2 linked regions of the Homo sapiens genome follow. The protein of the gene in region 2 interacts with the protein of the main gene of each other region in a pairwise test. Each region holds a gene or a part of one and is shown on either strand. Other genes may lie near its edges.

What was found.
Region 1: the proteins of SLC38A3 (region 2) and HMGN1 interact in a two-hybrid assay, tested with the Homo sapiens proteins (one large-scale study listed by BioGRID and IntAct).

Annotation. Positions count from the first base shown.
Region 1 is NC_000021.9:39,346,134-39,350,496, forward strand, and holds the start of HMGN1 (non-histone chromosomal protein HMG-14), read right to left. Parts: upstream 2,956-4,363; 5' UTR 2,785-2,955; coding exon 2,770-2,784; intron 2,473-2,769; exon of another isoform or gene 2,445-2,472; coding exon 2,412-2,444; intron 2,321-2,411; exon of another isoform or gene 2,319-2,320; coding exon 2,289-2,318; intron 2,207-2,288; coding exon 2,159-2,206; intron 1,810-2,158; exon of another isoform or gene 1,246-1,809; intron 1,160-1,245; exon of another isoform or gene 1-1,159. UniProt on the Homo sapiens protein: Binds to the inner side of the nucleosomal DNA thus altering the interaction between the DNA and the histone octamer. May be involved in the process which maintains transcribable genes in a unique chromatin conformation.
Region 2 is NC_000003.12:50,203,587-50,208,173, reverse strand, and holds the start of SLC38A3 (sodium-coupled neutral amino acid transporter 3), read right to left. Parts: upstream 2,904-4,587; 5' UTR 2,826-2,903; exon of another isoform or gene 697-2,825; intron 1-696. UniProt on the Homo sapiens protein: Symporter that cotransports specific neutral amino acids and sodium ions, coupled to an H(+) antiporter activity.

The sequences.
Region 1 (4,363 bases), on a different chromosome or scaffold from region 2:
CCCAGCGGGTGGTATAAAAGACCCATACGGATACTGACCAATTACTTGAATTAAAGGGCCATAAAGACAAGCAAGTAGAGCTCACAACTTCAATGCTAACACGGGCGGAAAAATCACTGCAGGGTGTTCTGTACTAATAGTAGGATTCCACAGACAGCATAATGACTTTTAATACTTCAACATCCTTTGAGTAACAAATGATAAATGTATTTGAGACAAAACTGCTACTACACACATTGCTATCACAAAGTTTCACAATCACTTCTGTATTTAAGAACTACTCTTTTGTAGTCTGTTTCTAAAGATTTCTCATTAATTTCATAATCATTCCAATACAAAAAATACAAAACTGGGAAACAGTTAAAATAGAATACATAATATCTTGGACTTGAAATAATACCACGTGTAACCATTATCAGCTGAAAAGCTAGATTAAAAAAAAATCAATCAAGTTTCCCAAAGTATAATGTTTGGACCTTCAAAATATTTAGTTCTAGGGAAAGATACAAGTCAGAAGCACACACAGTGACAAGATATGCCTTGAAAACATGTCTACTGTGTAGTATGATAATCGATACACCAAGTGCTTACGTTCTGTTTAGACTTCAAAGTCTGATCAACCATGAAGTCAAAGGTGTATTACAGAAACGAGATGTAAAAATGAACAAATCCCTTCTGCCCTTTTTCCTTTTGGGAAAACTGACCTCATAGGCTCGTTCCTCAACAAACACTGACATGAAGACTTACCTGTTGGCCTCTCAATTACATCTGATGTCCCAAACCCACTGAGAGTAAAACTTGGAACTGTTTTCATTAAAAAATTCACTTTACAGTAGATCTCAAGATGGACAAAGATAAATAAGGAAAGAAACAAGAAAAATGTAAAGAGGGAAACAGGCAGATATTTCAGCCAATTAGTTTAAAACACACACACACACACACACACAATAAAAAAAGATAGGTAATAATATACTGCTCACGCCAACATTTTTAACAAGGTCAGCTAATTTTTTAGGCCTTCAAGTTTCCGTGCTGTTCTAACTGTATACAGAGAATTACCACATGGTCTTCTGGTAATGAGAAATTTAAAGTTGAAAAATACTATTCTCATACCTTCCGTGAAGCTTTATTTTTAAAAGGATCACAAAAACAGAACTTTCTGTTAAAGAAAACATAGTTAACATTTTTACACTCAGCTCTGTAAAAAATTTAAATTAAAAAAGAAAAAACATCTTTGTTTTATACCTTTATTTAACAAGGACAAATTTAGTAATTATCCAACAACTCCTCAATGTCAAGGAAATTAATCTTGCCTCTTCTGATGACTGCAGTGCTAAACTTCTACCTACACTTTTAGGAAAGAGGTGAAGGCATTAACAAAAATTTTTTTTGAGACTTCAAATAGCAAACTCTCACCTAAGTTTTGGATAAAAATTAATCACCCCGCGAAGAACATGTAGAGCTTTACAGGTTTCAATGCTATATCCAAACACAAAGCTTATACTTGTTTTACACATGTTCTGCTTTTCCACCCTGCAAGTTATCAAACACACGTACACCCAAAGCCAACTTCATTCTACAGACCTGCAATTCGAATCATGCAATCACGAATTTGTTAGGGAGCAGCCAAAATCACGGTTTTGTATAACTGCTGATGAACACTTCCAGAGTAGTGGCGGTTATTTTCTCAGAGATCACAACTTTTTACCTCCCCACCCCCACCCCGTAAAAAGGTTAAGGCTTCCCGAAGTTGGCTTGGAAACTGTATATATAAAAACTTACACGTTCCCTTTCTCCTGGCCTCGGTGCTATCTTGACTCTTTTATTGTCAAAAAAGGAAGTACAAGCACGAATTAAAAGCCAAGCACCAGCCACAATGTACGCAACGCAAAGAATAAATTTCCTTTGTAGACTTAATATTTAATATTTTTTGTCGTCCTAAGTCTCCTAACATCTGCAGCAGCATTAGTGTGATATAGTTCTATAAACCAGGATGAATATATCCATTACATTTTTGCCTCGACCACTAGAAAAATTATTTACCGTAATTATTAAAGTATAAATAAAGCTCCAATAGCTAATCAAAATGGAAGCCCCGCATTAAGAAGCAGTGTAGCCTAAGGCCCCGCTGCATCCCAATGCGCGTTTCGAGGCTTACCTTCGCTGCTGCCTTTTTCGGCTTCGCTTCCACTTTTGCAGGAGGTTTCTGAAAGGCAAAAGCAGCACTGAGCGTCCTCACCCGGGACGACCCGCGGAAAACGAACGGTTACGGGGCTCGCTTTACTTACAGCTGACAACCGCGCCGATCTCCTCTTGGGCTTGGAGAAAGAAAAAGGAGAGTCAGCGAGAAGAGAAGGCAGGCCAGCGGCTCACGGGAAACCCACCACCCCCCGCAGAAGGCCCGCACTCACCTCTTCCTTGGCGGCGCCTTCGGCGGAGCTGACCTGCGGAGACGGAGACGCACGAATAGAGGCGGGCCGCAGTCCCAGGACTCGCGGGCCCGCCCGGCCCCGAGAACAATGCCCGGCCGCGTGACGTCACGGCTTCCCGCCGCCCCGTTCGAATAGCCCCCTCAGCTCCCCCGGCCGCCAAACGTTCCAGAACGCCCGCCCCCGCGGCCGCCGAGCGCTCGCCTGCCCGCCCGCCGGTCTCCAAGCGCCTCCCGGGCCCGTCGCCACCGTGGGTGCAACGGGGCCTGGGCCTCGCGGGGCCCGGCGGGGCGCCGGCGGCGGCTCCAGGGGGCGTGTGCGGGCCGCGGCCGCCGCTCACCTTCCTCTTGGGCATCGTGGCGGCGGGGAAGGCGCGTGCCGGGTGCCTGCGGGGAAGGCGCGTGCCGGGTGCCTGCGGGCCGCGGCGCGCCGACAGCCTTCGCGAAACTGGGCTGCCTTGCCGCTGCCACTCCTCCCGCCGCCCGAGCTGCTGAGACCCACAGCGGGGGCGGTGGGAGAACCGGATGGAACCGGATTGGGAGCCCGCCTCCTCCTCCCCCCGCGTCCCCGGCCGCGGGCTCCCCCTCCCCGCCGGCCGGGCCGCCCCCCACCCCCGCCCATTGGCTACGGGACTCAGCCCGCGCCCGGAATAGGTGAGGCGGGCCCTTAATTGATCCCGGACCCCGCCCCCTTCCGGGGGCCCCCCCCCCCCCCCCGGGCGCCCCCACCCCTTTCCGCCGTCTCGCGGGGCCCCAGACCCAGGCGAAGGGGGCGGGGTCCCAGTGGCGCTCCGGCCTCACGGTAGTTTGAAGCCGAGCCGCAAAGTGCGGTCTGCGCGCTGATTGGCGGACGCACGTCACGGGACCGCGGGTCCCCACCCACAATTCTTCTGGATACCTGGGCGCCTTCAGGCCACTGGTATCTGGCCCCTCCCCTCCGGGGTGAATTGGGTTCGAACATTTATAGTTCGTATCTTAGACTGGGAAGGGAGAAGGATAAGGTATACAGGAAGTAGCAAATTTCTCCCGCCTCTGTCGGCAAGAAAGGCTATCCAGGGGCTCCAGCTTCGCAGGCCTGCGTGAAGCGGGCCCTGGTGCGCAGGCGCTGCAGGAGGGCGTGGGAAGGAGAGCCGACGCGGCCTTTCTGTGTAACTTCCTTCCTTCCTTCCTTTTATTTGAGACAGGGTCTCGTTGTGTCGTCCAGGCTGGAGTGCAGTGGTGCGATCACGGCTCATTGCAGCCTCGACCCCTTCGGCTCCAGCGAACCTCCCACTCCGGCCTCCCGAGTAGCTGGGACCACAGGGCACCATTTTGCCCAGCTAACTTTTGTATTTTTTGTAGAGAGGGGGTTTCACTATGTTGCACAGCATGGTCTCCGACTCCTGGGCTCAAGCGATCCTCCCGCCTCGGCCTCCCAAAGTGCTGGGGATCCAAGCTGTGGAACTTTCTTCAGATTTCCCTGGAGGACTGCAGGTGCACGAGGGTCGTTTCTGGGCCCAGAGTAGGGCAGCTCTCAGATTGCAGCTCCTGAGAGCCGTGCGCGACCGTCTCCAGCACTCGCGGACCCCCAGAGGGCTGTTTTTTTTTCTCCATAGCATTGATTGAATATATATCCTTATACATTCCATATATATCTCAGGAAGAATACACAAGGAAGTGGTACCAGCGGTTGCCTCTGGGGAAAAGTGGGAAGATTGAGGGTAAAATTTCCCTTTTCTCGTGTGTAATTTTTTTTCACTTTCCTATCTGCATGGATTACCTTAAAAAAATTCAACATCAGAGAGTACCCAAGTTTGTGGCACAAGCATGTACTGAGCACCTGCCCTGTGGCAGGCACCGTGAAGTCCCTGGGGTAGAGAGAATCCAGGTTTGTATCCCAAGCACTGGGTCTAGTAATTTAGTGGGGAGAGAAAGTACCCAATTGGCCTAGTAAAG
Region 2 (4,587 bases):
ATGGGCACTGCCAAGATGGCCAGGCAGAACCCTGGAGGACCCCACAAAAAGGCTGCTGCACCTCCAGGTCCCCACAGAGCAGGTTATGCCCCTACCAACCAGGTGCTATGACACCCAGAGGCTGGGGCTGAGCCCACTAGGGCCACAAGGCCAGGCCCAACTGGAAAGCTCAGATATCCCTGGTCCAGCACCCAGGACTTGTCTACCTGAGCAATGGAAAATACATGTGGAGATGATGGTCAGTCGGAGTGACCCCCATTCCCAGCAGCCATGCACGTGTGCAGACGTGCTGGCTGAGAGGCTGTGTACAGGACGTGGCCCGCAGAGCGGAAATTCAAAACCAAGCCACCCCAGGCCACTGGCCGGAAAGCCCCTCCTGCCCAGCAGCTGGTCCTTCCCTTTGGCCCCCAGAAGCCCCGCCTGGTCCTCTAGAGCCCCACCCTGTTCTCCTATGTCTGTCCTACCACCCAGAGTCAAAGGCCTACCCTTCACCCACTAGACAAGAGTGTACCCCGGGCACACAGTAGGTGCTCAGCAAATGTTAAATGAATGGAATGGCCGGGCGCGGTGGCTTAGACTTGTAATTCCAGCACTTTGGGAGGCCAAGGCAGGCAGACTGCTTGAGGTCAGGAGTCCGAGACCAGTCTGGACAACATGATGAAACCCTGTCTCTACCAAAAATACAAAAAAAATTACCCAGGCTTGATGTTGCACACTTGCGGTCCTGGCTACTCAGAAGGCTGAGGTGGGAGAATTGCTTGGGCCTGGGAGGCGGCGGTTGCAGTGAGGCGAGATTGTGCCACTGCACTCCAGCTTGGGCAACAGAGTGAGACCCCACCTCAAAAAATGAAAAAAATAAAAAAAATAAACGAATGGAATGCATTTGAGGCCCTCGGCAAGCCCTCTTACCTGCTCCAAGTGAGGCCTGGCCCCTGGCCATGTCTACACTAAAACATCCTCCCACTGGGTCCCAATTCTACTATAGCATAGACTGCACATTCCACCTCAGCTTTCTGTTCACAGAGACACCAAAACTGCACCTCCCTGGTGGCCCACCCCACACCACTCCCCTCCAAATATGTTTCCCTCTCAAACTGGATGCTTGTCCTCACACCCAGCCCAGACTTCCAGGGTGTGTCCAGTTCAGCTTAAAATCCTTCTCTGACTCAACCCAGAGACCATGAACCACCCAGCCAGTCTTGTTGTGCCTCAGTTTCTCCAACTGTCCAGGGCTTCAAGGCTACTTGCTAGGGCAGTGGCACAAGGACAGGAGCAACCAGTTGTCATGATCTGGCAACCTGGAGCCCTGGACTGGTGTGGGGACCATTTGTGACATGGGCCAAAAAAACCAGCACACAACAAGGAGTGGCTTGAGAAGCCAGCGAAGACATGGGTCCCATGGGCCCAGGCAGAACAAAATTCTGAGATACAGACTCCTACCCTCCCCAGAGATTCAGCCCCCTGCTCCCAATGTCAAGAAATCAGATTCCCATTTCTGGTTTCAGTCATTCCAGCCCTCTCAGAGACGTGCCAGGCTTGGCCTCTTCCAGTCCTGATCCCTCCCGTCAGTGATGCTTCTTGCAGGAAGGGTACCGTGGCTGTGCCGAATTTCCCCCATTCAAAATGGAACCATCTTTGGGTCTCTTTAGCTTTCTATCCCCCAGACTGAGAGCCCCGAGGGATGTGCTTCCTTTCCAGAAGGAAATGAGCCCCATCCCAGACCTTTTACAGAACAGAACAGGAAGGGGTGAAAGGTCCAAGGGCCTTTTCCAGGGGCAGCTCTGTGGCCAGAGTCGGTCATGGAAGAAAGGACAGGGTTGGCAGGCTGAAGGAAGGATGGGCATGAGTGGGGAAGTCCTCCATGGTGTTCCTCAGGGCTCAAGAGCCTTTGACTTAGCCTTTCTCAGACCTGTTTGAGAGCCCATACCTGGACTCAGGACTCAGGTCCCCGTGGGGGGAAAAGGGCGGGTCCCCGCAGGTCCCTCCCCTGGCCTCCCCCTGCCTGGGTGTAAACAAACGCACGCATTTGCTGTGGCCAATCGAAGGGGCCAACCGGGCGGGGGCGGGCTCTTGCAAACCAAGTCTTGGTTCCTTCTCTCCGCCGTGCGCTGCGCGGGCTCTAACTTACACCCTACCCAGCGCCAGGTGGGGAGGAGCTCGCACGGCGCCCCGGCCTCAGGTCAGGGAGCCACTCGCGCCCTGCGCCCGCTGTGCCCGCTGGCTCCTCTGCAAATGGCACCGGCTCTGGGACCAGCATGTACCCCGCGGCCCCTCAGGCGGCCCGGCCCGATCTGCCCTCAAGCCCTTGTCCGGAGCAGCCGAGATAAATATACCCGGATTCCCATCGTGCCAGCCGGGCTGCTCTGCCTGTCAGGCGCCCGTCGGGGCAGCGCTCCAGGGACTGCTCCAGGCCCCTCTTGGGTCCTCCCCTCGGGCCCTCTCCAGCCTGCCCCATGGGCCCTGCCTCAGGAAGCCTGTGGTGTGCCGCCCGAGCCCCCAACAAGGCGTCCTGTGGTCCCAGCCCCGGGTGCCGCCGACCTCCTGCTGTACCTCGCAGCCCCGCCGAGAGGCCCTAAGGCGACGACGTGTCCCTCCCGGTACCCCCAGGGCCCTGCTTAAGCTCGGCGCTGAGTCCCGACTGGCAGGTCCCCAAGACCAGCGCCTGGAGCGCGCGGGGCTTTGGCTCGCCGGAGGCTGGGGCGCCTGCCCGGGTCAGGACGGTAGAGGAGAGCTGCCCAGAGCCCGGCTACGGACAGGAGGGTGGACAGTAGGGCTCGGCCCACCCGATTCCCCTGTGCGGGTGGGATGAACTCCCGAAGCGGTACCTGGCCTCGCGGTTGGGAACGTGCGGCGCTCCGCTCGGGCCGGTGCGGTTCGCTCTGCTCCCGGCTGAACTCGGCTGCAACAGCGACAACAGCGACGCGGGATGAAGGGCGCCCGGCCCCGCCCCCGGCCCGCCCCCCGCCCGCCAATCCCTGGCGGCCCGCGGGAGGAGGGGCTGGTCGGGGGAATGGCGGGGGCCGGGGCAGGCCGGGAGCAAAGGGGCGGCCTGAGCGTTAGGGAGCCCCTAGGTGGGAGAGCAGAGCTGCCAGAGGGACTCCGTTGAGTCTTGTGGGGGGAATGCTTCAGTCCAAAGCAGATTCTCTCTGAGGTCTGTGGGTGTCACATTAACCCCTGAAATGCTTTGCCCACACCCCCCAAAGCCAGAAGGGGAGCTTCCGCCAAGAGGACTGGCAATGCATAGCCTCAGTGAGAGATGCTTGAATGGGGGACTTTCAGGCGACACTCAGGCAACAAAATACCTCTTCTACCTGCCTCCCCCTTCCCAACCAGGGGTGGGGTGGGGGCGAGGGTGGGAGGGCTTCTTATATCAATTCTGTCTCCACCCCAGATATTCAGAGGAGGCTGAGGCTGGAACACAGAGGGCAGGGGCAGTGAGGTCAGGCAAGGAGTAAGGCTTGGCTTGCTTGAGCCTCACCTGGGGCCCCCCGACCATGACCCCCGTCCTTATTTAGAAGGTGTAGGAGACAGCTGTCAGCCTGTCCACAAGAAGGGGGCTGGGACTTGGTGTCCTGGGGACAGACAGGGGTTTTAGGATGGCCCCGTTCTTGGCTGGGGGCTCCTTATCCCACCCCTGCCTGCTTTCCACACAGGCCCTTGGTGCTCAGAGACGGGTGGTGGGTGTTAAGGTCCCAGGTTCCACCAGTAGGAAGCTGGGGGAGATGCTGACCTTCGGGGTGAAGTGGGGGGGTTCTCAGAACAGCTGTGCCCCTTGCTTCTCAGTCACTGGCTCTGATCCGATTAATCTCATGGCCTCTGCTGTTCCTATTCAAGCTGGTCTTCTCTGTGTCATGCCTGCCCCACTTCCCAGTGCGGGGGGAATGCCCTGAGAGGACATACCCGACCCTCCCCTGCCCTGGGCTGGGAGTCAGGACTCCAGGATTTTCTCCTGCTGACTCACAGAACCACCACAGCCAAGCCCTGGCGTACCTTGGTTTCCCTCTGTGACATGGAAATGGCTGTCTTTTCTCCTGAGGGGAATGAGTGGAGGGGAAGCTGTGAGACCGGGCAGGGGACTCAGCTCTGGCTGGCAGGGCTAGAGAGAAAGGCATTGGGATGGTGGCAACCCCTGAAAACCTCAAGCCACTCGAACTTCTGCCTTGCTGGTGGCTGGAAAATGGGAAAGGGCTGCCTTTCACTCCTGGTCTGGGGCTGATATCATCCTTAGATCAGAGCTCACTTTGACTCCCACCCTCCAAATGGGCATGGTTCTGCCATGGGACAGCCATATAGAAGAGGTGCTGACGAGGGTCTCAGGCCTGCCTCCCACCCCTCAACCTCCCACTTGCAGACACCCTGGATGCTCACAGGAGCTATCTGCAAAGGGCTGGTGGCTCCCACTGGCAGTTCTTGAGGGGCCAGGGCTGGCTCAAGGTCACCTGGGATATGGGTGTTGGGGTCCTCAATCTAGACTGGAGGAAGCAGGGGCTGACTGGGCTGGGCTGCTGTGGGAGGCCCAGAGGAGGGTATGATGTGGGGTCCCTGGGTCAGACCAGTTGTGGCCAGGCTGGGGGAGGGGCTGACTGT